Homo sapiens: one gene and its partners. The protein of the gene in region 5 purifies or fractionates together with the protein of the main gene of each other region. This does not show direct contact. Each region holds a gene or a part of one and is shown on either strand. Other genes may lie near its edges.

The links.
Region 1: the proteins of ZRSR2 (region 5) and RNPC3 purify together in Homo sapiens (affinity purification with mass spectrometry; 3 studies listed by BioGRID and IntAct, with this or other methods). This does not show direct contact.
Region 2: the proteins of ZRSR2 (region 5) and PDCD7 purify together in Homo sapiens (affinity purification with mass spectrometry; 3 studies listed by BioGRID and IntAct, with this or other methods). This does not show direct contact.
Region 3: the proteins of ZRSR2 (region 5) and U2SURP purify together in Homo sapiens (affinity purification with mass spectrometry; 3 studies listed by BioGRID and IntAct, with this or other methods). This does not show direct contact.
Region 4: the proteins of ZRSR2 (region 5) and GPATCH11 purify together in Homo sapiens (affinity purification with mass spectrometry; 3 studies listed by BioGRID and IntAct, with this or other methods). This does not show direct contact.
Region 6: the proteins of ZRSR2 (region 5) and SNRNP48 purify together in Homo sapiens (affinity purification with mass spectrometry; 3 studies listed by BioGRID and IntAct, with this or other methods). This does not show direct contact.
Region 7: the proteins of ZRSR2 (region 5) and RBM5 purify together in Homo sapiens (affinity purification with mass spectrometry; 3 studies listed by BioGRID and IntAct, with this or other methods). This does not show direct contact.

The regions. Positions count from the first base shown.
Region 1 is NC_000001.11:103,524,308-103,528,922, reverse strand, and holds the start of RNPC3 (RNA-binding region-containing protein 3), read right to left. Parts: upstream 3,225-4,615; 5' UTR 2,853-3,224; coding exon 2,661-2,852; intron 1,229-2,660; coding exon 1,181-1,228; intron 1-1,180. UniProt on the Homo sapiens protein: Participates in pre-mRNA U12-dependent splicing, performed by the minor spliceosome which removes U12-type introns. U12-type introns comprises less than 1% of all non-coding sequences. Binds to the 3'-stem-loop of m(7)G-capped U12 snRNA.
Region 2 is NC_000015.10:65,123,537-65,127,613, reverse strand, and holds part of PDCD7 (programmed cell death protein 7), read left to right. Parts: intron 1-4,077. UniProt on the Homo sapiens protein: Promotes apoptosis when overexpressed.
Region 3 is NC_000003.12:143,035,588-143,039,664, forward strand, and holds part of U2SURP (U2 snRNP-associated SURP motif-containing protein), read left to right. Parts: intron 1-394; coding exon 395-517; intron 518-1,591; coding exon 1,592-1,748; intron 1,749-2,520; coding exon 2,521-2,616; intron 2,617-3,306; coding exon 3,307-3,373; intron 3,374-4,077.
Region 4 is NC_000002.12:37,090,955-37,095,031, reverse strand, and holds part of GPATCH11 (G patch domain-containing protein 11), read right to left. Parts: intron 3,117-4,077; coding exon 2,996-3,116; intron 2,892-2,995; coding exon of another isoform or gene 2,868-2,891; coding exon 2,777-2,867; intron 951-2,776; coding exon 837-950; intron 381-836; exon of another isoform or gene 272-380; intron 1-271.
Region 5 is NC_000023.11:15,810,842-15,814,918, forward strand, and holds part of ZRSR2 (U2 small nuclear ribonucleoprotein auxiliary factor 35 kDa subunit-related protein 2), read left to right. Parts: intron 1-4,077. UniProt on the Homo sapiens protein: Pre-mRNA-binding protein required for splicing of both U2- and U12-type introns. Selectively interacts with the 3'-splice site of U2- and U12-type pre-mRNAs and promotes different steps in U2 and U12 intron splicing.
Region 6 is NC_000006.12:7,592,813-7,596,889, forward strand, and holds part of SNRNP48 (U11/U12 small nuclear ribonucleoprotein 48 kDa protein), read left to right. Parts: intron 1-921; coding exon 922-1,035; intron 1,036-1,286; coding exon 1,287-1,347; intron 1,348-2,214; coding exon 2,215-2,289; intron 2,290-4,077. UniProt on the Homo sapiens protein: Likely involved in U12-type 5' splice site recognition.
Region 7 is NC_000003.12:50,105,503-50,109,579, reverse strand, and holds part of RBM5 (RNA-binding protein 5), read right to left. Parts: intron 4,032-4,077; coding exon 3,871-4,031; intron 2,814-3,870; coding exon 2,716-2,813; intron 2,099-2,715; coding exon 2,011-2,098; intron 1,511-2,010; coding exon 1,433-1,510; intron 1,349-1,432; coding exon 1,276-1,348; intron 1-1,275. UniProt on the Homo sapiens protein: Component of the spliceosome A complex. Binds to ssRNA containing the consensus sequence 5'-AGGUAA-3'. Regulates alternative splicing of a number of mRNAs.

The DNA of each region.
Region 1 (4,615 bases), on a different chromosome or scaffold from region 5:
TCATGGCAAAAAGACTTTAATAGATGTGTTCATTCCTCATTTTGCATCATCACAGGATTTCATCTTCTTAAAACACACTTCTCTTTGCATCAGTGATAATTTCCTTTCTAGTTCTCCTACTTTAACTGCTCCTTCCCATTCTTCTCTCCTAGCTTATTATCCTTTGGGCAAACATATCTATTCACATGGTTGAAGAATCTTTCCATTCTTCACCTTGCCTCAGCTCTCATTAATATTTTTAAATATTTCCATAAAAGTAGCCCAATGACCCCTCCAAGTTAACAGATGACAAGTGAATTCATCCTATGCCTTTGCAAACATCCTCTGGATCCTCATGTCAGCTAATATAACAACCCAAATAACTCAATCCTCAATCTAAATATCCTGAACTATTCTCTCTCAACCCCTATATTATAAAACCTACAAACTCAATCTCTATTGAATATATATTTACTTCCCCCTTTGTCTTCTTACTGTCTTCTTCAGATAGTTATTCTTGCCTTGGCCATTATAACAGCCTTCCATTTGGTCTCCTACCTCTAATAATTCTGCACATCCAATCCATGATATGAACTATACCAGATATCTTTAACAGGCCTGATCATATTATGAGCCAGCTCAAAAGTATCAAGTGTCCACCTACTAAACCAAACTCAATACCTCTCTCCCAGACTCAAATCTATTTTTCAAGTTCCATTTCCATCTCAACCCTTAGCTCCTGCTCCACTTATAACTTCCAATGTCTCACAGCTTTATTTGGTGTTCTGCAAGCCCAGAAGGCCCATCTCCACTTGTTTCCTTCTGAAAAAATCCAATTAATCATTAGACTTCTAGCTAAAAGATCACCTCCTGTGAATGATTCCCTGGCATTATAAAGAAATGTATATTCTCCTTTTAACACTTGAAACATCTTACCTTGTAACAGTCACAGAGATATTTATCAATCTAAATCATTTAGAAATTGTTATTTTAATTACATACGCAGTTAGTTTTTCTTTATAGATAATCTACTAAAGGACTGGGCAAGATCTGCCAACTGACAAATCAAATGTAGTCTGTTGGGGAAACTGTTGGAATACAAACGCTTTTGCTTCTTAAAAACCACAGTTAAACATTATCTGAACCAAGATTGTATAAGAGGATCCTGTTGACAACTTTAATCGTCAAGAAAAAGTCATACCTTTATAGCTGCTTTTTCATTAGGGAATGTGGCAAAAGCTGTATGTTTCTGAAACAGAGTTAAGGTACAAATTACTTCCAATATAATTTCAGTTTCTCACAAAGAAATCTGACTTTTTACCAGTGGAGTAATGTGACATGTTAATAAAATCACGGGAAAGGATGAAAACTCAAGACCATTTAACTGATTACTAATTTCAGTCCAGTGGTTTTCAATACTTTTTGAGTCAGACTTGAGATGAAAGCTATGCAACCTCTATCATATAAAGACACACGTTTTACACATGCAAATAGTTCAAAAGACCAAAAGTTTAAAGACCTGTTCTACACAGAGGGTCACTTTTAACCAACTAAAAATTTATTTCCTTCATTTATGACAGATCTAAAGATTTTAAACTTTCCTCTATACATAACAATGCGTAGTTTAAAAACATTCACCAACAGAGAAATCGTTCTTCAAGGTGCATATTTCCTTTGTGCTTTATCTTTGTAATAATGTTCAATGGGAGAAGTCTATTTTTAAACATAAATTATACGGATTTTAAAAACCATCAGAAAAGAAACACAAATCAACAGTAAAAGAATCACTATGCTAAGGAAGAGCTCTGGTCAATGCTTATTAAAAGTTACTTTAATAATTATATCGCACATTCTAATTTTGTCTAATCTGATACACGATGACCTGATGTACTTAAATTGAGCCATATATAATTTTTTTTTTTTAATTTGCAGGCATAAGTGACATTTAAACTGATCAAAATTGGTCTTTCTTCTAATTCAGTAACTCTCAACTTGGGCTGCACATTAACATTAAAATCACCTAGGGAAACTTTAAAACCACTGAGTCTTGCACCATCGCTATTCCTATTTTAATGAAGAGAAATCTAAAATATCTTTGGATATAAAGCAAAACAAAGTAATTGTGTAAATTCCTACACAGGTACTCTTAACAGCCCTAAAAAATTGTTCCCTAAAAGATGTCATCGGGAAATTTTTATGAAAAGCCTCTTTTTCTAGTTGAAATTCTGCATTTAATTTACGCAAGTCACCAATGTAGCTTCTCCTCTATTTTAATGAACGATTTAACATTGGCTTATAAATGAAGTAGGACTTTAAAAAATCCCTTGATGCACATTTGTAAGAATACTCTTGAGTCCAGGAGAAATAACCCCAAATTCAAAAAAGTTGTGAGGCTCTCAGGATGGATCCGAAAACTCAATATAACTAAGCTAATTTCCATTCTTCTGCTTTGTCGTTCTCACTTGCCCTTTTCTGCAGTGCTATGACTAATCCAGACTCGAGCCGATTAAAACTCCACTTCGCAGAGCAGATATTTTGATAAAAAAGAGGTAGGATGGGGGAGCTCTCATCACACAAGTCCATCTTCCCCACTCGTTTCCATTTTACTCTTGTCAGCGCTCCCCCTCCCCGGTCACTTCCCAAATGCCTTCCCGGGAGACTCCGGAGGGGCGCGCCCTTACCAGTCGCCCCTTATCTGACAGGACCCGCACAGACTGAGCCCCGAAGTACTTCAGCAAGTCCTCTTTCTCCTCAGCAGTAAGCTCAGCCGGCAGGTGCCTGACCAGAAGGGTTCGGTCGCCCCGAGGCGGGGAAAGCGAGGAGGAGCTCGTGCATCCCCTTGATATCGCAAGCGGCTGCTCGGGAGCTGCCATTTTCCTTGGAGAAGCAAAAACAGAAATCGTGGGAAGAAGTCTCAGTCAAAATCGCGGCATCAACACAAGCTGGGAGAAATATTTTTTCCGCCTCGCGCTAAGGATTCTGGAAACCAGGAAATACCGAGAAAGAAAGTCACCTTCTCGCGAGAACTGCGCCACCGAAAAGCGGCAACCCTTCGAAGACTCTTCGGGGAAGGGCGCGGTGCTAATGATTTAAATTCCAGGGGTCTCCGGAAAGACTTACAAGCAAAAATTGGCCCAGAGATGTGCGAGGGTTAACACAAGTTGTCAATCAAAGAAGGAAACAGGAACCCCAGCCACTTCAGGGAAAGAAGGTTGACGCTCAAGGACAAGAGGACTCACGACTGCGCATGTGCGGGCTGGGACCGTCACAGGGCGGGGCGGGGCGCACGGCGGGGCGGGGCGCACGGCGGGGCGGGGCGCACGGCGGGGCGGGGCGCACGGCGGGGCGGGGCGCACGGCGGGGCGGGGCGCACGGCGGGGCGGGGCGCACGGCGGGGCGGGGCGCACGGCGGGGCGGGGCGCACGGCGGGGCGGGGCGCACGGCGGCGAGCGCTATCTGGAGCTGACCGTGCGGCTCTTAATCCCTGGCCTTGGGAAAGTGAATTGGCCTGAATAGCAAGGAGGAGAACTTGGGTGTGGAAATACCGGGTATGTTCTTACAGTATTTAGATGGTAAAATATAAAGCTAGCCAGTTATTCTGTCAACTCATTAGACACCATTGTAGGGAGGAGAACTCAGTTTAAGGGGCAAAACGTTGAGAGTTCAGACTTTTTTCTTGAATCAGTAGGCATTTAGCAGACGGATAGGCCCCTGCCAGGGTTCATTTCGCAGAAATGGCAGCCTCTAGGGAGAGGTAACCTAATAAATAAATTATTGCATGTGTGTGTATGTGTGTGTGTGTAGGGGTGTGTGTGTGTGTGTGTGTGTATGTGTGTGTGTGTGTAGGTGTAGGTACTTTTCTCCCTATTTTACAGCTGAGGACACTGATGTACAAAGAGGTTAAATCACACAGCTAGAAAGTGGAAGAACTAAGTTTTGACCCTTGGTGTTCTGACTGGGGGTCTACATTCTAATCCACTGTTCTGCCTAGATTCTGAATGGAGTGAGGCAGGGATCATCCCCGGAGGGTCAGGAATGTACCCCTCACCCCATACAGAGAGGGCCTTGAGGATTCTAAAGAGAGGTTTTATGCTAGATGTAGCTGCTACAGTCTGGAGAACCAGAGTTCCTCTTACAGTTCTTTTTGCCACTTAAATAAATGTTAGAGATACAGCAGTAAGCAGTATACCAGCAATCTGCTGTCATCCCGCATTGGTTGGGGAAAAGGAGAGAGACAGATATTAATGAAAACTAGAAGACAAACATGAGAAGAACCTTCCCCACACACCCACCAAAATATCAGATAGGTAGAGCCAGACCACGTAGACGCTGTAGATTTGTTAGGAGCCCTTTTTATTTGAGGAACATTTAGAAACTGACAAATTCTTTAAGTAGGTGTGTGTTGAGGGGAGAGAATCAAAGTTTAGGTATGAAAATTTCTCCGGTTGCAATGCAAAAAACAGAAGCAGAAAGACCAGTTGGACTACTGTAGAAGTCTGGAGAAAAACACTACCATAATAGTTTGGTGAAAGTGGACATGTAGAGAAGGAACTGGAATTGAGATACGTTTTAGAAGTAGTTGATAGGAACTTGCAGATGAAGAATAGTAAGCAAGGATAAATTCTGGATTTTTGGC
Region 2 (4,077 bases), on a different chromosome or scaffold from region 5:
GATGTGTGCACCTCCAACTAAGTGCTGAATGATGAGGCTGGATGTTTAAGCAGGACCACGTTGCAAATTGTCTTATGGGCTATGCTAGAGTTCTCACTTATACTTAAAGCTTTGGGGAACCGCTGAAAGTTTTTTTTTTTTTTTTTTTTTGAGACGGAGTCTCGCTCTGTCGCCCAGGCCGGACTGCGGACTGCAGTGGCGCAATCTCGGCTCACTGCAAGCTCCGCTTCCCGGGTTCACGCCATTCTCCTGCCTCAGCCTCCCGAGTAGCTGGGACTACAGGCGCCCACCACCGCGCCCGGCTAATTTTTTGTATTTTTAGTAGAGACGGGGTTTCACCTTGTTAGCCAGGATGGTCTCGATCTCCTGACCTCATGATCCACCTGCCTCGGCCTCCCAAAGTGCTGGGATTACAGGCGTGAGCCACCACGCCTGGCCCCGCTGAAAGTTTTTAAGTGAAATGATGGCAAAGATCAGTGCCAGTAGAGCAGAGAAAGTTTTGGAGCATCCAGGAGAGAGAGAGAAGGGCAGAGAGATGGGTAAGGCTATTGGGCACGGGTAGTATGGAAGCATAAGCTGAGTGACGTCAGTGTGTAGGAGAATTGAGAGGTAATGAGTAATTCAAGTGATAGTGAATAATTGAGTAATTCAGAATTATTAGTGAATAATTCTCAAGTCAAAGAATTGAGAGATAATGAATAAAGGTATATGTGTATATACCCATGTACATATAAATAAATAATTTAAGGAACTCAGAGTACAGGAACTAAAGGGAAAAACAATGAAATGTCTTCCAGATTCTAGCCTCATCTACTGAATAAGTGAAGATAGCTTTTTTTTTTTGCTTTTTTTTTTTTTAAAAGACAGGGTCTTGCACTGTCGCCCAAGCCGAAGTGCAGTGGTGCAATCATAATTCACTGCAGCCTTATACTCCCAGGCAGGAGCGATCCTCCCACCTCAGCCTCCTGAGTAGTAGAGACTACAGGTGCACACCACCACACCTGGCTAATTTTTAAATTTTTTGTAGAGATAGAGTTTCGCCATGTTGCCCAAGCTGGTCTCGAACTCCTGGGCTCAAGCGATTCTCCCATCTTGGCCTCCCAAAGTTCTAGGATTAAGGGTGTGAGCCACTGTGCCTGGCCGATACCATTCTAATTAAGAAGGAAAACAAGGGAGGAGGAACAGGTTTAGGGTTGACAAGTTCAGTTGGGGACCTGTCGAGTTTGAGGTGTGTGTGGTACATCCTGGATAAGAGTTCATTAGCATGTAGCCATGAGTCAGAATGACCTTAAGGAGATTGTACAGCATGAGATGAGGGCCAAAAAGACAAAATCATAGGGAATGTCAAAATCAAGGTAGAAGATGAAGAGAGCAAAAAAGAGACCAAGAGAGGTCAGAGAGATGGGAGGAAAAGATAGACTCCCTGCTTCCTTCTGGAAAGTGGCAAGTGCTTAGAGAGAGATTGTGTAGTCTTGGTGATATGGTTTGGCTGTGTCCCCACCCAAATCTCATCTTGAATTGTAGCTCCCATAATTCCCACATGTCGTCGGAGGGACTTGGTGGGAGGTAATTGAATCATGGGGACAGGTCTTTCACATGCTGTTCTTGTGATCATAAGTCTCATGAGATCTGATGGATTTATAAAGGAGAGTTTCCTTGCACACGCCCTCTTTACCTGTCACCATGTAAGATATAACTTTGCTCCTCCTTCACCTTCCGCCATGATTGTGAAGCCTCCCCAGCCATGTAGAACTGTGAGTCAATTAAACCTCTTTTATAAATTACCCAATTTCAGGTATATCTTTATTGGCAGCGTGAGAATAGATTAATACACTTGGACAGGTTACTTGAGCTTCTCTGAACCTTTGTTTCCTCATCTGCAAAAAGGGAGTAATGATAGTACCTACCCATGGGGTGTCGTGAGGATTAAATTAATAAATATGTGTAAAGTACTTAAAACAGTCCTGGCACATAGTAAATGCTATATACATGTTTCATATTATTATTCTTTTTATTATCAAGAAATAAGGAACATCCATGGGAATTAGTATCCAACCGGTCATTAGTGACCTATGCTAGGGGCATTTCAGTGGAGTGGTGGGGGTAGAAGCCAGACTACAGTTGGTTAGAGAATGAATATGATACAAGAAAAGCAAACAGATAATTCAACTTATTAAAAGATTGCCTGTGAAGAAAAGGAAAGAGCAACATCAGTATCTGGCAAGGTGTGTGGTAGTGGTGATGGTGAGGGGTGTTGTGTGTCTTTGGGTCATGGGGAAAACTTAAGCATGGTTAAAATTGCTGAGAGGAGTGAGTAGAAGGGGAAGGGTCAAAGAGAAGCAGGAAGAATAGTTGATGGCTCAAGGTCCCATGGAAGGTAGGATGATTCAGATCCCAGGTGGAGGGATTAACTTAAGTGAAGAAGGACCCATCTTACACAAGCATGAAAATGAAGGAGATGAAGATAGGTAGTGATGCACATGAGTGTGTAAATGGGGACAGATATTTGAGGGATTTCCTGTCTGCTGGCCTGTTTTCTCTGGGAAACAGGGTAAATGGTTTGCTGAGCGCCAGTAGACAAGTGGGGCTTTAGGAGAGCAGTGAAGGTTTGATTTAATTGCTGTGAAGAATGGGTGAGAGCCAACAGAGACTTGTGGAAGATGGTTGCAGGGGGTGCTATGGGTCCAGCTGACATATATTGGCAATGGATGACACAATCAAATGACCTCTTCCAGTAGTACTGTAGCTGACAGGTGAGCACAGAGCACGGGGCTGTTGGGGTTTTGCTTTGTGGGGTGACCATTAGTTTTGTGGCGAAGGAGTAGCAGAAGGATAGAATCTGATACATCAGGTCCGGAGGTTTTGATGAAGCTGCCAAATGGGTCTCTGGGGAGAAGGAAGTAAAAGTACTATAAGGGAGAAAGTTGTAGTTGGATAAGAGAATAATCAAGTTTAAGATTTAAGAGGCAGAAAGTTTTTTCTGATAATGCCAAGGTCCACAGACTGAACAGGACTGCAGGCATGTGGCTAAAGGGGAATAGAGGCAAAGGCATTGGTGTCTAGGAGCTGCAGGACTAGGTGGACAGTGAGTGGTAGAAGTGGAGGGAACCTAGATGGTGCCAGGAGGAAGACTGTGTGAGAAGTGCTGTTTCTTTTTCTTTTTCTTTCTTTCTTTCTTTTTTTTTTTTGAGACGGAGTTTCACTCTTGTTGCCCCTGTTGGAGTGCAGTGGTGCAATCTCGGCTCACTGCAACCTCCACCTCCCAGGTTCAAGCGATTCTCCTGCCTCAGCCTCCAGAGTAGCTGAGATTACAGGCATGCACCACCACACCCAGCTAATTTTTGTATTTTTTTTAGTAGAGATGGGGTTTCACCACGTTGGTCAGGCTGGTCTCAAACTCCTGACCTCAGGTAATCTACCCGCCTCAGCCTCCCAAAGTGTTGGGATTACAGGTGTGAGCCACCACTCCCGCCCCAGGAGTGCCATTTCTGAGGGAATATGTTACATTGACCAGGGAGTGATCAGTGAGGGGCCGAGAGAGATGTGGGTTGGTGGCCCAGGCTCAGCAGCCTACATCTCTTCATGGGGTCTTTAGGCTAACATAGGATGATGGAGTATCTGTGTATTTCGCCATAGACAGATTTTAGTAGTTGCAACAGAGACTGTATGGCTTACAAAATCTAAAATATTTACCTGTAAAGGTAAAGAAATGAAACAAAACCGTTAGATTATTATAAAACAGAGTGACAGCTTAAATTTGTCAGTGTATAAGAATTTTGTGTATACTTGAAAAACACTGGCCTGGCAACTTAGTAGAAGATAAATTTGAGTTGTAGTGTTTCTGTAGTTGAGAATGAGTGAATGGAAACCTGTAGAAGCAAAGCAGTTAGGAGAAAATCATCTAGAGAAATGTTAGCCTTGAGAGTGAGTTCCACAACCACTTAGCTGTAGTGGTTGAAGGAGGAAAGAATCCTACCTCCAAATTACAACTTTACAAGAAACAGAACTACTAACCTTGAGAAACCATTATTTATGCCATTTATCAGCCCAAACTGAAAATTTAGTGCTCAAAGCTGG
Region 3 (4,077 bases), on a different chromosome or scaffold from region 5:
AGAATTAGGAAGTACTTTATTGGACCATAAGGGATTCAGGTCAAAACTTGGCTACTTTGGTTTCCAGTTTTAGTAAGTTTCTATGTAAGTGTTTCTGGAATGTGGCTCATGGGTAGTACTAATGGTATGGGAGCTGACCTTAGGTGGTAAAGAGCAAATAGTTACTGTTTATTTTTCATTATATTTATTTTTAGGGGTTTTTTTCCTTTTAATTAGAAGGTGACATTGATTTTTTTAAAAAATATGGTAATGATATATAGTTATTTTCTTTAAAGTTTAAAAAAACATCAGTTTAAAGGCAAATTTAGCAAATCTTGATGATCATTCTCATGAACTGAAATTTGAGACATATAGCCCAAAATAAAAGTTTGTTGTCTGTTTCCTGTTTCTTTAGCAACGGGTAATGACTTGCTTCAGAGCATGGGAAGATTGGGCAATTTATCCAGAACCATTTTTGATCAAACTACAAAATATTTTCTTAGGACTTGTAAATATTATTGAAGAAAAGGAAACAGAGGTAGGCAGTCTGTATTTGTCTGGTTGTTTTTAAAATTCGTTTCTGGGGTGGAGGTTTCTTGGAGTTGTTCTGTGTTACATATGTGAGGTACATTTCTTTGTGAAAAATATCTATTGCTTACCATTAAGTAGTGGATTTTTATTGCTGGAACCCAGAAGTCAAAATTACATGTAACAGGAATTCTCTGTCTTGTGTCCTTATGTGAAAATTGGTGAGTGTTTTTTTTATTTAATGATATAAGAGTTATGATATATTGTTAATAGTAGAAAATAAGCAAGTAATAGAGCAATATGTATAGCATGACTTTATTTTGTTAAAGATAGCTATATAAGTAAAATATGTGCATGAAAAGATGCATCACATGATAGCAGATATACATCACCATTCTGTTGTTTTTTTTCTTTTTTACCTCCTAAATAATTACTGAATCCTTAATGTTTAATTCTGCCATGCTAGTCAAGCTATTATGTTTTCACTTTCACTCCTGCAGGATCTTCCTAATTGGCCTTACTGTTGCAACCCACGTGGTCCTTGTTTCAGTTTCTTAAATGTGTGTTTCCACCTACCATTGGACTTTGTACATGTCCTTCCCTCTTTCTGGGACTTATCTTCACCTGAGATCCTTCAGATCTCAGCTCAAACATAACCTTAGCCTTCTCTGACCTCTTTAAGTGAAACTTAGTATGCTAATAGTATGATACGCCCTTTTGCTGTAGCAGTTACCATAGTTACAGATAAGTATATATTGTTGTGATGATCTGATTTCCTGGTTCCCCCACCCCTGCAAAACAACAGCAAAAACCTTTACCAGGCTCTATAACAGGGGGACCAAACTTGTTTTTGCTCATCATTGCCTCACAAGGTACCTGGCACCAGTGAGCACTTGGTAAATATTAGATAAATGCACAACTGACTGCTTCTTTAGCAAACTGGATGATAGAATATGTTCTTACATTGTACCTCAGATTGTGGGTATCCAGTTATGTTGGCTTGTACTGGATTACAAATTAATCTTACAAGCAATGTGACTTCAGCAAGCAAAGGAAAATGTTATAATAGTACACATTTCCATAGGATGTTCCAGATGACCTTGATGGTGCCCCCATCGAGGAAGAGCTTGATGGTGCACCTCTGGAAGATGTAGATGGAATTCCTATTGATGCTACTCCCATCGATGATCTTGATGGAGTCCCTATAAAAAGTCTTGATGATGATCTTGATGGAGTGCCTTGTAAGTTCAGATTTCAAACTGATTAAATCTAGCTAATACATTTGGTGACCAAAACTCTAATTTCCATACATGCTGATATGGAAAAAGGTTATAGTTTCTCATGAACGTATCAAGTTATTAACTTTTCTATTTCTGATTTTTTTCAAAATTCATATACCCAGTAATACATTTATTTGTATGCTATGTATATAAAAGGCCAAGAAGAAGCATTTTTTTCTGGTCACATTTCTTTGCTGGGACAATCAGCCTCCTATAATATTAGCAAGTTTCTCTTTTTGTCTTGTCAGGAAATTATAGGCAAAATCTTGTGCTCAGTTATGCATGATCCTAGGTACCTGGTTTTATCAGTTTTTATTAGTTTTTCTAACTTACAACTTCAGTTTTCCTAGCTGCCTAAAATCATTTTGAAAATAGGAACTGTAGACAGCTCTTTGGTACATTTGAATTATATGTTTAAATATTGAATAATGTATGCAGTTTTATATTTCAGAGATTAGGTAAAGATATTAAAGATTTGTTTTACTTCTCAACTTCTTCACTTGCTTAATATATTACTAACCTGTATTTTCTGAATTGATATATATACTGTTAAAAATATTGCCCTCAGATGCAGAGAATTGGTTTAGTCATAGTCCTTGTTCTTAGTATTACTATTTGTCCATCTGTGTCCTTATTTTACTTTGCTTTTTAATAATATGGTGAATACCCATGAATGTAATACTTCGGGTCATCCACTAGTAGTCAGGGTTAATGGCTTATCTTTCCCTAATAGTGGATGCAACTGAAGACTCAAAAAAGAATGAGCCTATATTTAAAGTTGCCCCATCAAAATGGGAAGCTGTGGATGAATCTGAATTGGAAGCACAGGGTGAGTAAAAGTAAAATAAATATTTTTTAAATTAAGTACTTGTACGTTAATTATTGGTGTGCTTGTATATATGTTTTCCTTTTATGTTTTATAACACGTTTTAACCTTAATGCTCAATGTTGTCATATTTTGTGTCTAATGTATGCTTTTATTGTGGTTGGTGTTGCTGTTACAATTTTCTTAGGTCCTTCAGTTTGGAAGCTTTGAGAGTAATGAGATATCACTGAAAACCTTTCAGGTTAAGGCATTTTAGTAGCAAATGTAGATTGGAAGCTGTACCTACGTAGAAATCTACATAGAGGTCAGTTTCATAGAAACCAAGCTTTGACCCTCCCATAATGCTAGACTGATTAGATGCAATTTAGACCTGTCTTTCACACTTACTTAGACCTGTATCCTAGTGCTAATAATCTAATTGTTGCTATTTGTAGGTTCTAATGAAATAAATCTTAATATTCAACACAGAAATAAGGATGACATTATTCGTCACTTCATGAATTTGAATTATATTGTAGGTGTGAGGAAAGAGATTTGGCATATAGAAATAACTATTTAGAGAATTGATAAACATAGATTAAAAAAACTTCTGTAATATAAACTTTTCAATTCTAAAGCTTGAGCTTCCACTGTACTACTGAAAAAATGCTAGTTTACCTCGTGGAATTACATCCTCCTTTTCCTTTCATTCAGCTGTTACAACTTCTAAATGGGAATTATTTGACCAGCATGAAGAATCAGAAGAAGAAGAAAATCAAAAGTAAGAATCTAAGTTTTGAATATACTGTTTCTTGTTCATATACACTCCCCTTTTCATTAAGAGATATAGTTGAAATAATAGTGAAGTGGAAAACTTCACTCTTAAAAAATTTTGGGAGAGGATCATTTTTAGTTCTCCATTGGTTTTCCAGTGAATAAAGAGCTTTTGTTTTCTGGTCTTGATGGATCTGGTTTCATTTTGCTTTTGAGTTTTTTACGCTAGGTTATATTCTCACTTTGTAGTTACTAATTGGTCAACTGCATTTTTTTCAAACCTTTGCCATCAAATACTGTTTTGGGCTCCATAAAAAGTGGTTTTTAAAATGTGAATAGGAAAGGTTATACTCCTTTCTTTTGGATTGTACATTCTAAGAAAAAGATTGCATTATGGCCATTGTGTTATTTAAATATAAACCTTTCAGAAGAACTAAGAATGAATACAAAGGAAAAAATCTTTTCTTTTGAAATATAGAGAAATAATAATTTTGATTTTGCTGTTTGGTAATCACCCCAAAATTGTTTTTGTATTTGACACTGTGTGGTTGTAGGAATCTCTCCTCTCAGATTCTCCTGCAAGTCTGTATTGGCAGTTTTTAGGAAGTTCTTGACACTTTTTAAAATCATTGCAAAGGGAGTTGAATTTTTTTTTTTTTTTTTTTTTAAATGAGTAGGAAGAGATGGTATCACAAACACAAAGCACAGGTT
Region 4 (4,077 bases), on a different chromosome or scaffold from region 5:
TGTTTTCCACAAAATTATTATACTCAAGTAAGCATACGAGTGTGTTTTCCTTTCTTGAATAATCTCCATTTCCTTTTTTTTTTTTTTTTGTGAGACAGGGTCTCGGTCTATCACCTAGGCTGGAGTGCAGTGGCGTGATCTTGGCTCACCGCAACCTCTGCCTCCCGGGCTCACGTGATCCTCCTACCTCAGCCTCCTGAGTAGCTAGGATTATTGGGTGCCCCACACCTGGCTAATTTTTGTATTTTTAGTAGAGACTAAAATACACTACCATGTTGGCCAGGCTGGTCTTAAACTCCTGACCTCAAGTGATCCACCAGTTTTGGTCTCCCAAAGTGTTTGGATTACAGGTGTGAGCCACCATGCCCGGCCTCCATTTTCTTTTGATTGTGTTTTTTTGTTGTTTATAAGTAGGAGAAAAAAGTACACATTAGAATGACTTGTAGAAGTTTTGCAGGAAATAAGGTATAAATTAAAATAATTTACATTTGTTGCTAATTCATCATCCAAACTGAAGCTGAGATGAGAGGACAAATGGAAGCTAAAGGGAAAAATTATATGTAAGTTTTGATTTGGGGTTAGTAAAGTAATCCTGCAATGCAGTACCTCTCAACCAGGGGTTATTTTTCCCCTCGGGGACATTTAGCAATGTCTGGAGAGGGTTTTGGTTGTCATAAGCAAAAGTGCAACTGGTATCTGGTGGGCAGGGGCCAGAGATGCTGCTAAACATCTTGCAATGCACAGGACAGCTCTCCACAACAACGGATTACCACAACTCAAAGTGCTAATGTTGCCAAGGCTGAGACACCCTATGAAGGAAATGGTGCAAAGCATACGCTTAAATCTTCACTCTTATATTCATCTTCATCCTGTTCTTTTTCTTCTTCATCTTCTTCAGTCTCCTCTTCAAGCCTCAACCAGTACCATGCTTCCCTGGGAACCTGAATATTCTGAAAATGCAGAAGTAGTCTCAATTAAACATACTAAACATAAGAGCATGACAAATATGTTCATGTCAACATGAATTCATTCTTTCAATACGTATTCACTGAGTGTGGCTTTAAGAGTAAAAACACTGGCCGGGCACGGTGGCTCACGCCTGCAATCCCAGCACTTTGGGAGGGAGAGGTGGGTGGATCACGAGGTCAAGAGATCAAGATCATCCTGACCAACATGGTGAAACCCCATCTCTACTAAAAATACAAAAATTAGCTGGGCGTGGTAGTGCATGCCTGTCGTCCCAGCTACTCAGGAGGCCGAGGCAGGAGAATTGCTTGAACCCAGGAGGTGGAGGTTGCAGTGAGCCAAAATCACGCCACTGTACTCTAGCCTGGTGACAGAGTGAGACTCCATCTCAAAAAAAAAGTGAAAACATTGTACCATGAACTATGGGGATGCAAAGTCCAATTCTTTAGAATTGTGCAGTTGTCTTTAAGTTCCTTCTGACAGTCTAGCAGGAAAGATAGGCTATGGGTACAAAATAATACATATATGCTACAAAATCATAAGTGCCATGAAATACATTCAAAGTAAAGTAATATGTAAGAACAGGAAAGTGAGAGATTGCTTCCAGTAATCTATATATAAGGGAAATTTTACAAAGCTTTTTGAGACTTCAAATGAAGTCATTTTATTTTCAGAGTACTTGAACCACTAAGATAAAAGCAAAGACAGAATTTATTTACTTATTTATTTTTTTTGTAGAGCTGGGGACTTGCTATGTTGTCCAGGCTGGTCACAAACTCCTGGACTCAAGCAATCCTGCAGCCTCGTCCTCTCAAAGTGCTGAGATTACAGACATGAGCCACCATGCCCAGCCAGAGACAGAATTTTTTAAAAACTATTCAAATTTGAACTAGATAGCATTCCACCTTGATTTTATTTTTGAGACAGGGTCTCACTCTGTCACCCAGGCTGGAGTGCAGTGGCATGAACATAGCTCAATGCAACCTCAACCTTCTGGGCTCAAGTGATTCTCCCACTTCAGCCTCCTGAGTAGATAGGACTACAGGTGTGTGCCACCACATGCAGCTAATTTTAAGATGTTTTGTAGAGATGGAGTCTTGAAATGTTATCCAGGCTGGTCTCGAACTCCTGGGCTGAAATAATCATCCTGCCTTTGCCTCCCAAAGTGCTAGGATTACAGGATTGAGCCATCATGCCTGGCCCACTCTGATTTTAATAGTTAGACATATATTAGATACTGAATAGGAACTGAAAATAGGCTATTCTTGTTAATCAAATATTATAAAGAACAGAATTTCTGCACATAATAGTCATAACTGATATTCAAATAAGCAGAGAACAATTAAATGTAAAATTTTATTTAACCCTTTTTGTTTTACTATAGTTAGTATAAAACTATAAAACTATAGTTACTATAAAACCCTGGGTTTTATAGTAACCCAGACAACTCAGGTTACTATAGTAAATAATAAGCCATTTTTATATCAATTGTCACAGATCAGAAGTGCACATTACATGAAAGCTTTAATGAGTAGATAAACCGGGCTTGGAGTTCTTAGTTTTATATATATATATAATATATATATTATATATATAAATACATAAAATATATATAATATATAAGACATATGTAAAAAATATATAAATATATATGATACATATAAATATATGTAATACATATATAAACATATAATACATATATAAATATATATAATACATATATAAAATATATATATATATAATAAATAAACGGGAAATCACAGGGGGTGCCAAAACACTTTACTAAACTGAAAGCTGGTAAAAGGCTTACTTTCTGGACATCCAGTTGTTGACAGGCTCGCTGGCTTCTTCTGAGATCTCCTTCTAGCTTCATTTCATCTTGCTTATTTTTAAGTCGCATTCTAATTGAAAGAAAAAATTGTAAACTAAAGGTCTACGTTATCTTTAACCATTTTATATGCCCAAGTACCAGAGAACATACCACAATAAAGAGGAAATAGAACCAAAACCAGCTCAAAAATAGTTTTACCGAAACTGTTCTGCAGCTTTTTCTTCAGCTTGGTTTTTCATGTGAATCTTTTTTCTGTAGCTTTCCAATTTTTCCTCTGCTTTCCGTTTTAATGATGCCTCATGACCAATGCCACTTTTCCCTATTCAAACAGAAAATTCTGATGAGAAACATCCTGACTTTGTGCTTCAAAACAAGACGATTTAACTATGTACAAATTAAATGCAATTCTCATTTGAGTACTATCACTCACAAATCATTTGAGTACACTAATAGTAGAAAACACTAGGGTTTTTTTTAAGCCCAAAACATAATCTGATTTTTACAAAGATTGTTAATCTCATCTTATAGTAATATTATAAACAATTTTTCAAATCAGAAAAACAGTATTAGCTGTTATAGTTTTATTTAAATATGAATAAAATATATCTTTTTCTCTTGAATTCATCCAAGTATTAAGCAAAACATTTGGTAGATAAATCTGTCTCAGAACACTTTTATTTTATTTTATTTTTATAGGGACAGGCTGGTATGTAGTGGCACAATCATGGCTCACTGTAACCTCGAACTTGTGGGCTCCAGGAATCGTCCCGCCTCAGCCTCCTGAATAGCAAGGACTACAGGTGCGTGCCACTACACCCGGTTAATTTTTTAAATTTTTTGCAGAGATGAGGTCTTGCTATGTTGCCCAGGCTGGTCTCAAATTCCTGGCTGCTTTTTTTTTTTTTTCCTTGAGATGGAATTTCACTCTTGTTGCCCAGGCTGGAGTGCAATGGCGCAATCTTAGCTCACTGCAATCTCTGCCTCCTGGGTTCAAGCGATTCTCCTGCCTCAGCCTCCCAAGTAGCTGGGATTACAGGCATGCACCACCATGCCCGGCTAATTCTGTATTTTTAGTAGAGATGGGGTTTCTCCATGTTGGTCAGGCTGGTCTTGAACTCCCAACCTCAGGTGATCTGCCTGCCTCGGCCACCCAAAGTGCTGGGATTACAGGTGTGAGCCACCACGCCCGGCCAACTCTTGGCTTTAAGCAATCCTTCTGCATCGGCCTCCCAGAGCAAAACAGTTTTAAGACATTTCAATGGACAAAAACAGTATTGCAC
Region 5 (4,077 bases):
CCTGGTATCTATAAAAAAAAAAAAGTAAAATAAATAAATAATATATTTATATATATTTATATAAAAATATTATATAAATAAATAATAAGAATACCAGGGACTTGGGTGGCCTTAGTTTCAAAATGTCCTCAGGTGTCTCTAGTGTGCCCTAGGATTGAGAGCCACTAATGTCAAGTGTGTATGTCCTTTTGTATTTTAGAGGTGGGATTGCAGATGTCTGGAATGTCTGTGAAAAGAGTCATGGGATCTGCTAACTAGTAGAAAGCCTCCTCTTGAAAAACTGGGAACTAAGAAAAGGAAAGAGACTTTATTCCCTTTGATACCTTTAGAACCATTTCTCAGATATCCACTTTATCTAAACAAGAAATGGTAATGATTGGTGTAAAAAACTTCCCACCAAAGAAAAATGCACTGTGAATTACCTTTCAGAGACAACTGAGACTCCATGTAAGTTCACATTTGCATGGGTACTTGAACCAAATTGCATTTAAGGTTTTCCAGCTGCAGGATCCCTCATGTAGGATCTATCTCTAACATTTCCTCCAAATTTAAGACCCGTGGTAGCCTGATTCTTGATTCTCACCCCCCCCCCTTTTTTTTTTGAGACGGAGTCTCGCCCTGTCACCAGGCTGGAGTGCAGTGGCATGATCACAGCTCACCGCAAGCTCTGCCTCCCAGGTTCAAGCGATTCTCCTGCCTTAGCCTCTCGAGTAGTTGGGACTACAGGCGCATGCCACCACACCTGGCTAATTTTTTTTGTATTTTTAGTATAGACGAGGTTTCGCCATGTTGGCCAGGATGGTCTCGATCTCTTGACATTGTGATCCACGTGCCTCGGCCTCCCAAAGTGCTGGGATTACAGGCATGAGCCACTGCTCCCGGCCTAATTCTCCTTTTGTTGGGCATAAGTGAGAGGAGGGGAGATGTCTTAAACGATTTCGAGAACTTGGTTGACAGGCCCTACCTTGTGGGAAGAGGGAATGGCCCGTCATGCTCTCAGATCCCATCTCTCCTCAAGTCATTTCAAGGAAATATGGACAGTGGTCAAATTAGTTTGCGAGCATTTCTTTTTTTTATTTTATTTTATTTTATTATTATTCTTTTTTGAGACGGAGTCTCGCTCTGTCGCCCAGGCTGGAGTGCAGTGGCACGATCTCCGCTCACTGCAAACTCCGCCTCCTGGGTTCGCGCCATTCTCCTGCCTCAGCCTCCCGAGTAGCTGGGACCACAGGGGCCCGCCACCACGCCTGGCTAATTTTTTGTGTTTTTAATATAGATGGGGTTTCACCATGTTAGCCAGGATGGTCTCGATCTCCTGACCTTGTGATCCGCCCGCCTCGGCCTCCCAAAGTGCTAGGATTACAGGCGTGAGCCACCGCGCCTGGCTGCGAACATTTCTTACAATTTTCATAGGCATATGAAATTTTACCATCACAACTATCAAAGTATAACAGCAGTGTGGAGATTTTCATCATTCAAGTGATAAGTTGTGACATGAAATTCTGCGAAATTTGCAGTTACAAAATCCAGCACCATCCCTTTAGACAAGTAGACTGCTCTGTTCCCTTTTTATGGAGAGCCTTGGTGACTTGCTCCAGATCGTACAGCTGTTCTGTTCTGTCGTTAAGTTTTGTCAGAGCATCAGAGGAACACTTCCATAACCTCAGCATTTCTTTGGCTGGTTGTTTTTGTAATTAGTACAGAGTTCAATTCTAGAGCCATGCTGGAATTGGTATTTTTTGGAGTCACAGCTTTGAGGGGAATCTATTTGTTTTTCTCCTAAAAGGTAATAATTACTAATGGAAGGTAAAACTTAGTGGTCTATTTATACCTCACTTACTTCCAAAAGTGATTTAAAGAAGGTTCGTGATCTAGCACATTAAGTTAGAGAAAGTAAAGGAAATTGAAAGCAAGGAAAGGAAGAGAAAGTGAGTTATTTTCTCCAGGTTTTTATTTCTCCATATTTGAATTCATCTCAAGCAGATAGTAAGCTGTCATTCTTACCAAAAAGGAAGAATGAGTGGTATCTCTAGAAAGACAGAAATTTTCCTGGCACCAGATTCTAAAGGTTTCTCCCTTGGAATATTTTACAAAGACATTAAATAGGAAGGTGGACAATAACTTTAATAGATGCTTTATAACAGTTGCATATGTAATTTTCATGAGGATGTTTCTTACAGTGACCTTCGATAAATGATTGCAGCTTCACTTTAACATGCAATGCGGGGATTCTATGTAGGACAAAGGTAATGCGTACCAGGAGCACTTCCCTGAGAAGAAGAAAAAGAGGAGTAGTCAGTTAGCTATACCCGAGGGGGCATTTGGATACCCACACCATTTATTGGCCATCCTTGGCCTAAGGTAATATCCAACAACTGTGGGTTTTTGCAGCAAACTGACTTAAGTATCAGAATAATGGGTAAATATTATGCCCTAAACCAGTGGTTCCCAAATATGGCTGATCTTCAGGACCAGGTAGGGAGCTACTTTGAAAATATGGGTCCCCCACCCCTTGAGGTCTGATCAGATGGTCTAGGGTAGGAAGTAAGAAATCTCAGTTCTTTCCAGGTAATTCTGAGAACCACACAGGCTTGGAACCACAGCTTTAGACTGCCTTCGTAAATGTCACTTCTCTTAGCTGAGTTTTCAATAAAAGCTATAGGGCTGGCCTTTTGTATACACTTAGATTATAAGGACTGTCTTTAGGCCAGATGGGATTTTTCCCCAGACAGGGACTTTGGTTCTATTCCAAAACTGACAAATGCTTATTTGACATCCTGGGAACTAGGGCCAAGTTCATTCAGATCTAGGAATCCCTTGAGCAGAATTTTAACCTCATTAAATTAGTTCCTTGTTTAATTCTCTGCATGCTTCATACTTATAACATTTTGATTCACTGTTAGTGTTGCCAGTCAGGTTGAGTCTTTGCTCTTTGTTCTATCAGTAGTTGGGAAGAGGGATCTAATTACAAGGTCTCTAATTGAATAATCCAGGAGGTCATTTGGAAAATAGAAAATTTCACGTTAATGAACGTTGATGAAGCATTTCTGAGCTGAGCATGGTGTATGCTGGGCATTCTGTAAGCATTATCTCAGTAGGTGCTTAGATAGACATTACAGACATGGAAAGTGAGTATTATTAAACATTTAGTCATTTCAGGGCCATTGTTGTTTTTTCCCAACACGTCCTATTCTTCAACTTTCTTTCTTCCTAAATTCTGTGGACTCCCCTCGCCAAAAAAAAAAAAAAAAAAGTTTTTGTCTTACCAATTTTTAACTAGCAACCTAACCAGGAAAATTTTGTTTATTTGGAACCTTGAACTACATTTTTCCTCCACATTGTATGTTAGGAGAAGGAAGGAAGTAAGAAAGTAAACTCATATGAAGGATTTTTGAAATATTACTCAGGTACAGCCTGGTCAGCTTAGCCTTGGTCCAGTTTAAACTATGAAAATAAAATTGTTCTTCATAATGGTTGGCCACCTTCATTAAATAAGAATTAAATGATGCAGGTATGGTAGCTCACACCTGTAATCCCAGAGCTTTGGGAGGCTGAGGCAGGAGGATCACTTGAAGCCAGGAGTGCGAGACCAGCCTGGGCAACATAGCGAGACCCCGTCCCTACAAAAATAAAATTATCCGGGTGTGGTGGCATACGCCTATGGCATGCGCCAGCTACTCAAGATGCTGAGGCAGAAGGATCACTTGAGCCCGGGGAATTCAAGGTTGCAGTGAAGTATGATCATACCATTGCACTCCAGCCTATGTAACAGAACAAGACCCTGTCTCAAAAACAAATTGTATTTATTACACCCCATCGTGAACAGGCACCAGATTGTAGATTAATGCAGATGTCTTGGATCCCTCTCTTCCAAGCCATATGACTGACTTGGGCAAGTGTGCTTTTCTAGGTCTCAGCTTCCGTCTTTGCAAAGTGGTGAAAATACTAGCCCCCACTGTCCTAAAGGGATAAAAGGACCAGAGGGGAAAAATGTAAAAATGCCATGAAAGCTACAAGATGCTGTACACAGATCAGATTGAATTGCTTCATTAACTGGAAATTCTTGGATTACTATAT
Region 6 (4,077 bases), on a different chromosome or scaffold from region 5:
TGAGTTGGGGAAGTGGCAGTGGGGATGGAGGATGTTGAGGGATTTTCAGAAATATTTAGGAGTTAAATTGGCAGGACTAGGTGATTGATTGGACGTGGGTGATGAGGGAGAAGTAGTTTCTTGCTTGAGCAAGGGGGACCTTTCACTGAAATAGAAAAGTACAAAAGGAATAGATTTGAGGGTTGGGAGATGATGAATATAATTAATTTATTTTTGTTTGTGTTGAACTTTTAGTGTCTTTAATATACGGTACTGGAGAGAAACAAGGTTTAAAGATCTAAATTTTGGGAGTCCTCACTGTATAGTGAGAGTTGTAGCTTTGAGATCTTTCAGTAAGCATATATTAAACAGCAAAAGGTCAGTGGTTATATTAATACTTACATGAAAACCAACATCTAAAGGGGGACAAATAGAGCAAGGAAGACAGATATTTAGGATATTTAGAGGAGACCAAGTAGAAGAAGCCAGAGAGGTAGAAAGAACATGAGGGGTGTGTCAGAATCACAGATGGACAATTGGAGTGTGACCTTCCAAGAGTTCAGATAAAACAAGACAGTGACATGTTTTTGGCTTTAGTAACAAGGTTATTAGTGACCTATTGACTGGTTTCAGTGGGGTGATGGTGGCAATGAGTGAGGAATCGTTATAGGTGAGGTGAGGTTGTTTAGACAGTGAGTGTAAATACACCTTTCAAAGAGTTAGGCTTTGAAGGAGTGGAGAGAGGACAGGGGCATTTAGGGAGTTAGGGGTTGAAGGAGTTTTATTTTTCTTTAATACACAACTACATGGGGGTTGAGAGAGGCCTGTAGAAGAGGATGCACTATACAGTACTGGTACATAATTAAATGGTAAACATTTAATGGTAATTATTTATTTAAATATTATGTACCTATTTTCTTTGTTTCTGTTTGATTTTTATAGGATGAAGTTGTGATATGTCCATACGATTCCAATCATCACATGCCTAAATCATCTTTGGCAAAGCACATGGCATCTTGTAGATTGAGGAAAATGGGCTATACCAAAGAAGAAGAGGTACCATATATTTACTATATTATATATACATATATGTCATGCATTTTACACATTAATTCACAATTTTTGGAAGTTACAATGTGAGGTTCACTGACAAAATAATAGCCCTTACTTGAAGGGTTGGTTGGTACTTGCCTAATTGCACAAATTATTGTGAGAAATAATTAAGTGATACTAATCTATTGTTTAGGTCAAGTCTTAAAATAGTCAATTATCTGATACTTAAGAACAGTAAGATTCTTTTTTTTCAGGATGAAATGTATAATCCTGAGTTTTTCTATGAAAATGTGAAGATACCTTCGATTACTTTGAGTAAGTATTAAGTTATTATAATTTAAAAATATCTTAGTGTAGATATTGATTTTTCATTTTTGCATTATGAAAAGAATGGATTGTATAAGCATGCTTATGACAAGGACATTTAGTACCTTAAGAGAATGTAGAATTAATTAATGTACAAGGCAACTAATTCACATAATCTGAAGTTTAGAGACCAGGCTTGTATTAATAGGCAGTGAAAACCTTACAAAGCTTTGTATAGTAGAGCAGACACCTTCTTTCTCAGTTACAACAAAAATTTGAGCATGTGACACAGATTGAAGGATGAGACTGAAGATGGACATGTGTTCCAGGGATTGACAGCATATATAGAGGTTAAAGTCTTGGGCTCTGGAAAAAGAATGTCCTGATTCAACTCCTGTTTTTATCATGAAAGATGTGACTTTCAGCGAGGTAATTAACCTGTTTGTTGCCTAAATTTCTTTATAAAATGGAGATGGTTATAATAGCACTTTGCGAAGATTAAGTGATATATATATATAATATTCTTAGAATAGTGTCAGGCACTTAGCTGGAGTCAGCTAGAGGGTCACAGAGTTGTGACCATTACAGCACAGGCTTCAAGAATGTTAGCTATTATTGGTCAGTAAAATTTGTCGCTGCTACTGCTGCGTGCCTAATTATAGGCATGAACTGCTTGAAGTCTGATTACTTACTGGGCTGTAGATAAATCTGAAAGGATTCTGTGTTCAGATTTCATAGACAGGGATGTGGATGTTTCTTAAGATTCTGGAAGGTTTGTCCACGTGCCCAAAGGGCTTGGATCAGAAACCAGTTAATAATTTAATTGTGGTCACTGATGATTCATATTGTATTTATGGATTTTTTTTTTTTTGACAGATAAGGACTCACAATTCCAGATAATTAAACAAGCTAGAACTGCAGTTGGGAAAGACAGTGATTGTTATAATCAAAGTAAGTGGCATTACAGTTTAAGTGAATTAAAGAATGAAATTATTATTTTTCTCATAAGCATGTTACTAATTTTCTTCAAGAAAAACCTGTGAAAACTGTTACATGGGAAAGGTAAAGTTTTACATTTAACATTGGGCTAATTTGCTTCGTTTCAACTTCATTTGTTAGATATTTCCTGTTGAGATACACCAGAGTCTCACTAAGACACTATCTTAGCTAGGGGTTCATCCTTTGGAATTACCTGGCGATTTATAGGTGAGATTGTCTTGTGGCTAATTAAAAAAATTATTATTTAGTAAATACAGATGGTCCCAACTTAATGATGATTTAATTTAGGATTTTTTCAATTTTATGGTGTTGTGAAAACAATACACAATCACAAGGTTTTAGACTTTAAGTACTAGTGATTCTTTTATCAGACGCTGGGCTGCATTTTCAACTTAACGGTATTTTCAGTTTATGATGGGTTTATCGGGATGTAACCCCATGTAAGTCAAGGAACATCTATAAATGCCACTGAGTGAGGCTCTTTTACTCTTGAGATTTCCTCTCTTTAGAGTGTTGAAATGCAGTGTAAAGAAAAGGCTTAGGCTAAAAGAGATTAGTCTCCACAGCTACCCTCAGATTGCTTGCTACCCAGTAAGTGAGTTGGTTTGAGGTGATGAATGCTTGGGATCCCCTTCTCAGAAAAAAAGTACAAACACAAAAGTTTTACATATAATTTCAGAGGATTCATATTAATAGATCCTTTCATGCCCAGCTTTAGAGCTGGGTTAAAGAGTTTCTCCCTGGGAACCTCAGCAGAGAGTAGGTTAGAAGTTTTAAGCATAAGCTTTTAGGAAATTGAAAGAAAACTTCATCCATCAAAAACATAGACATAGGCCAGACACGGTGGCTCATGCCTGTCATCCCAGCACTTTGGGAGGCCGAGGCAGGTGGATCATCTGAGGTCAGAAGTTCAAGACCACCCTGGCCAACATGGCGAAACCCTGTCTTTACTAAAAAATGCAAAAATTAGCCGGGCATGGTGGCAAGCACCTGTAATCCCAGCTACTCAGGAGACCGAGGCAGGAAGAATTGCTTGAACCCAGGAGGCGGAGGTTTCATTGAGCCAAGATTGCACCATTGCACTCCAGCCTGGGCAACAGAGCGAGACTCCATCTCAAAAAAAAAAACACACATAGACAAACGAGTTAATAAAAGTTTAAATTTCTAATGAATGTAGATATGACATCTAGCCAAAACCTGAACAGCTTCTCTTGTAAGGATTTCTGCATTGTCTTCTTTGAACCTTCTGTAGGTAGCTTTCTCTGGACAACTTACCTTTTTTTCCTCATTCTTTTTTCTAGCTGAATTATATTTACCAGGCTGTAGTCATGGTTGGTTTTCTCCCTCATTGAAATTGAGGATCTTTACCAAATACTGTTCTAAGCCAGTATCTGGACTTGATTTCTCAGAGTTGCTCTATGGCTTCAGAAGAAAGACCATCTTATCCTTAGTTGTCTATATTACATGGGTTCTCTACAACAGCCAGAAGCACATTTCTTGTATTTTTTGTTTTGAGGTTCCCACTTTTGTCCCTGTCAGGGAAATTCCAGGTTTTTTTCTTTGAGGGAGACAGTTGACTCTCATTTTATTTATTCGGAGAGATTACTGAGCTATGACTAGTCAAGCCTTTTTTGGCCTCTGCTATTGGTTCTGCTCATATCCCCTGGTAGTGTACCCATAAAAAAGTTGAGGTTTTTGGTTTTTGAAAGGGTTAATAATACTTAAAGGACTTTATTTGAG
Region 7 (4,077 bases), on a different chromosome or scaffold from region 5:
GGAAAGCCAAGGCACTGAACGCCAACCCAAACATCTTTATTTGTAATGCCCAATCTAGCCTTCTTCTGTCATTGTATATGTCAGTTCTTCATAAGCTAACTTCCACTAAGTACCCTGGAATCTGTGACATTTTCATTTTCTTATAATTCTACTAGATGTGATATACAAAGTTAAGGATTCTGTATCATGGCTAAGAAAAAGAGAAGAGGCCGGGTGCAGTGGCTCAGGCCTGTAATCCCAGCACTTTGGAAGGAAAAGGCGAGCCGATCACGAGGTCAGGAGATTGAGACCATCCTGGCTAACACGGTGAAACCCCGTCTCTACTAAAAATACAAAAAATTAGCCGGGAGTGGTGGCAGGCACCTGTAGTTCCAGCTACTTGTGAGGCTAAGGCAGGAGAATGGCGTGAACCTGGGAGGCAGAGCTCACAGTGAACCGAGATAACGCCACCGCACTCCAGCCTGGGCAACAGAGCGAGACTCCGTCTCAAAAAAAAAAGAAGAGAAAAGGAAGAGAAGAAAGGATCTATATTTGCTCTGGGGTTGAGAAAGATTTAACTCACAAGGCTTTTTAAAGCCTGAAACAAAAATTAAAGCCAAGGCTTCTTAGAGTAGCTCTTCTGATTGATGTCTGAGCACCAGTCTCCAGGGCCACATCCTCTCTGCTCACCTGAACTTACGTGGGCACTCACGACTCCAAACACAGAGAGGGGAAATACAGAGTTGAATTCCAAGAATTAAACTCATCACAACATGGTCTCTAAGACCTTGTATTAACTCCTGGTGTACACAAATAACCGTATTCTTCCCCAGAACCTTGGGTACATGATGACAGCCCTGAATATGCCCCCTACATTCTTTTTTTTTTCTTTCTGAGACAGAATCTCACTCTGTCGCCCAGGCTGGAGTGCAGTGGCGCAATCTCAGCTCACTGCAATCTCTGCCGCTCGGGTTCAAGCAATTCTCCTGCCTCAGCCTCCTGAGTAGCTGGGATTACAGGCGCCTGCCACCGCACCTGGCTAATTTCTGTAGTTTTAGCTGAGATGGGGTTTCACCATGTTGGCCAGGCTGGTCTTGAACTCCTGACCTCGTGATCCACCTGCCTTGGCCTCCCAAAGTGCTGGGATTACAGGCGTGAGCCACCGTGCCCGGCCATGCCCCCTACAATCTTACAGAGAAATGGACTTGTAGCTTTTGGTCCAGTTAGGACATTTAATCATATTTCTTCAACTGTAAGTGCTTAAACAAAAGGTAAAAGGGAGATGAAGTTTACTACCTGATGCAGATGATGCATCAGATTCCAATCCTCCAGCTTGTTGTTGATAAAACTGCTGATAATCCTGTGAATACTGAAGAAAAGTCCACCATTAAAGCTGCTATTCTCAGACACACTCTGCAAGACTATAAGGTGGATGCTGCTAAAATCTACCTACCTGAGCATATTGGGCATAGCCATCTTGACCTGGTTGCAGATAACTGTAGTCAACACTGCCTCCTTCACCACTTTGAGACTACAAAACATCAAAATGAGACAAAGACAAACTTAGTAGGCATTAAGGAAAAAAATTCAGAAGTCCCTAAAAATGAGCTCATGATGCTGGGCGCTGTGGCTCACGGCTGTAATCCCAGCACTTTGGGAGGCTGACGTGGGTGGATCACCTGAGGTCAGGAGTTCAAGACCAGCCTGGCCAACGTGGTGAAATCCCATCTCTACTAAAATACAAAAATTAGCCAGGCGTGGTGGCAGGTACCTGTAATCCCAGCTACTCAAGAGGCTGAGACAGAAGAACCACTTGAACCTGGAAGGTGGAGCTTGCAGTGAGCCAAGATTGCACCATTGCACTCCAGCCCGGGTGACGAGAGTGATACTCTGTCTCAAAAAAAAAAAAAAAAAAAAAAAAAAAAAAAGAAAAGAAAAGAGCTCATACTGCGAGTACCACAGGAGAGGTCACGTCTGTGAATCTGGGCACCACCACCACACTACCTTGAGCAAAAAGATCCTCGATCTTACCTGGGTGGATGACCACTGAGCAGCAGCAATAGCCGTACTAGCTACAGAGAAAGCGCTGACGCGGTTACCATCTGAGAGGACCAAGTCTCTGAAACCACAAAGATCCAATCATGTGATTCTATCACAGTATTCCCACAATTAGTGCCCCTATACCACCAACTGATTCACTCCACCCTTTGTCAGTTCTCAAATGCCAGCAAGGCCACATTTCACAGGGGGAGGGCTCTTCATGGGGAAATTCCTCAGTAAGCAAGTGGCCCTGTAGTATCATTGTTCTACCTTGTAACCTGCCATCTAACGAAGAGTTTTTTGAATGTGCAATGATACTAAAAAAAGGGAAATTTACCGTGTTAGAGTTAAGCACTATATACATGAAATTATTAGCACGCTGTTCTGGAAGGAATGGGTTATTTCTGGATGGGTTAGCACTATACTGCTGCAGTTTGCAAAGCATGTGTTCTCAACCCATCTGCCATACTTGCCTTTCTCCTGATCTGAAACCATTTCAGGCAACTTCATCAACTGGTTACACAGGACAGTAGGGAATAATCACTAAAAGAAGACAAACGTGTCCCTCCTGGCCTTGGCAATCAGGGAGGATCACAGTGTCTCAACATACTTGGGGCACAGGCTTGGCGTTCAGTTAGCACACTGTACAAATGTGCATATGCAGTAGTTTGAAATAAGGACAATGAAGCCACTCACTTTCTGGCACTTTTTGCAAAATCAACCCCAATAGTTTTGCCATCAATTTTCAAAGGAGGATGGAGACTCTGTAATATCTGAAGCAGCTGAGAAGCATCCTGAAGGAGAATGTGAAGGAAAAAAACGTGTAATGCAATTAAAAATCTCTCCCTACCATCCACCCCATTCAAAGAAGTAGTTTTCTATTAAAAAATAAAAGGCAATTAATTCCTTATTGTGTTTGCAGATATGAAACCTCAAGAAAGGAATATCTCTCTTTCCTCTAAGATGTGAAGGTTTCCAGTATTACCAAAAGAGCAAATGCTAAACCAATCTAAAACAAAGTACATCTAGCACTTGGGAGGCTGAGATGAGCGGATCACTTGAAGTCAAGAGTTCGAGACCAGCCTGGCCAACATGGCAAAAACCTGTCTCTACTAAAAATACAAAAATTAGCTGGGCGTGGCTGGGCGCGGTGGCTCACGCCTGTAATCCCAGCACTTTGGGAGGCAGAGGTGGTGATCAAGACCATCCTGGCTAACACAGTGAAACCCCATCTCTACTAAAAATACAAAAAATTAGCTGAGCATGGTGGTGAGCGCCTGTAATCCCAGATACTCAGGAGGCTGAGGCGGGAGAATGGCGTGAACCCTGGGGAGATGGAGCTTGCAGTGAGCCGAGATCACACCACTGCACTCCATCCAGCCTGGGCGACAGAACGAGACTCCCTCTCAAAAAAAAAAAAAAAAAAAAAAAAAAAAAAAAAATAGCTGGGCGTGGTGGCGGGCACCTGTAATCCCAGCTACTCAGGAGGCTGAGGCAGGAGAATCGCTTGAACCCTGGAGGCAGAGGTTGCAGTGATCCGAGATGGTGCCACCGCACTCCAGCCTGGGCGACAGTGAGACTCCATCCCAAAAAAGAACAACAACAACAAAAAACAAAGTACCAAGGACTAAACTGTGGCTCAAAAAATTCTGCCAGTTGCCTATAGGTATACACATTATTTTTACTACTTACTGAAGTCATCAGTCCTGTAATTTAGCAGTGCAAAAACTGTCATTAGGGAGCCTTGCATCTTGGGCTTTAGGAGCCTCAGACAGTTTCAAAACTGGATGAACCACATTTGCCTCTTAAAGCTGTTTCTTTTAAAAAGGAAAGAATCGATGAGAACCTCACCATTGCAGAGGACAGCTGCACAAATGCGAAGCCTCTGTTCTGCTGGGTCTGTTTGTCTTTTATGAGGCGGATGTTATTGACAGCTAAAGACGCGTAAGGAGACAGTGCTGTCATGATGGAATCCACCACAGTGTGCGGAGCTATGTTCCGAAGAATGATCGCTAGGGGTAAATGAGACAAATGACATACACATGCATTCCCACCACC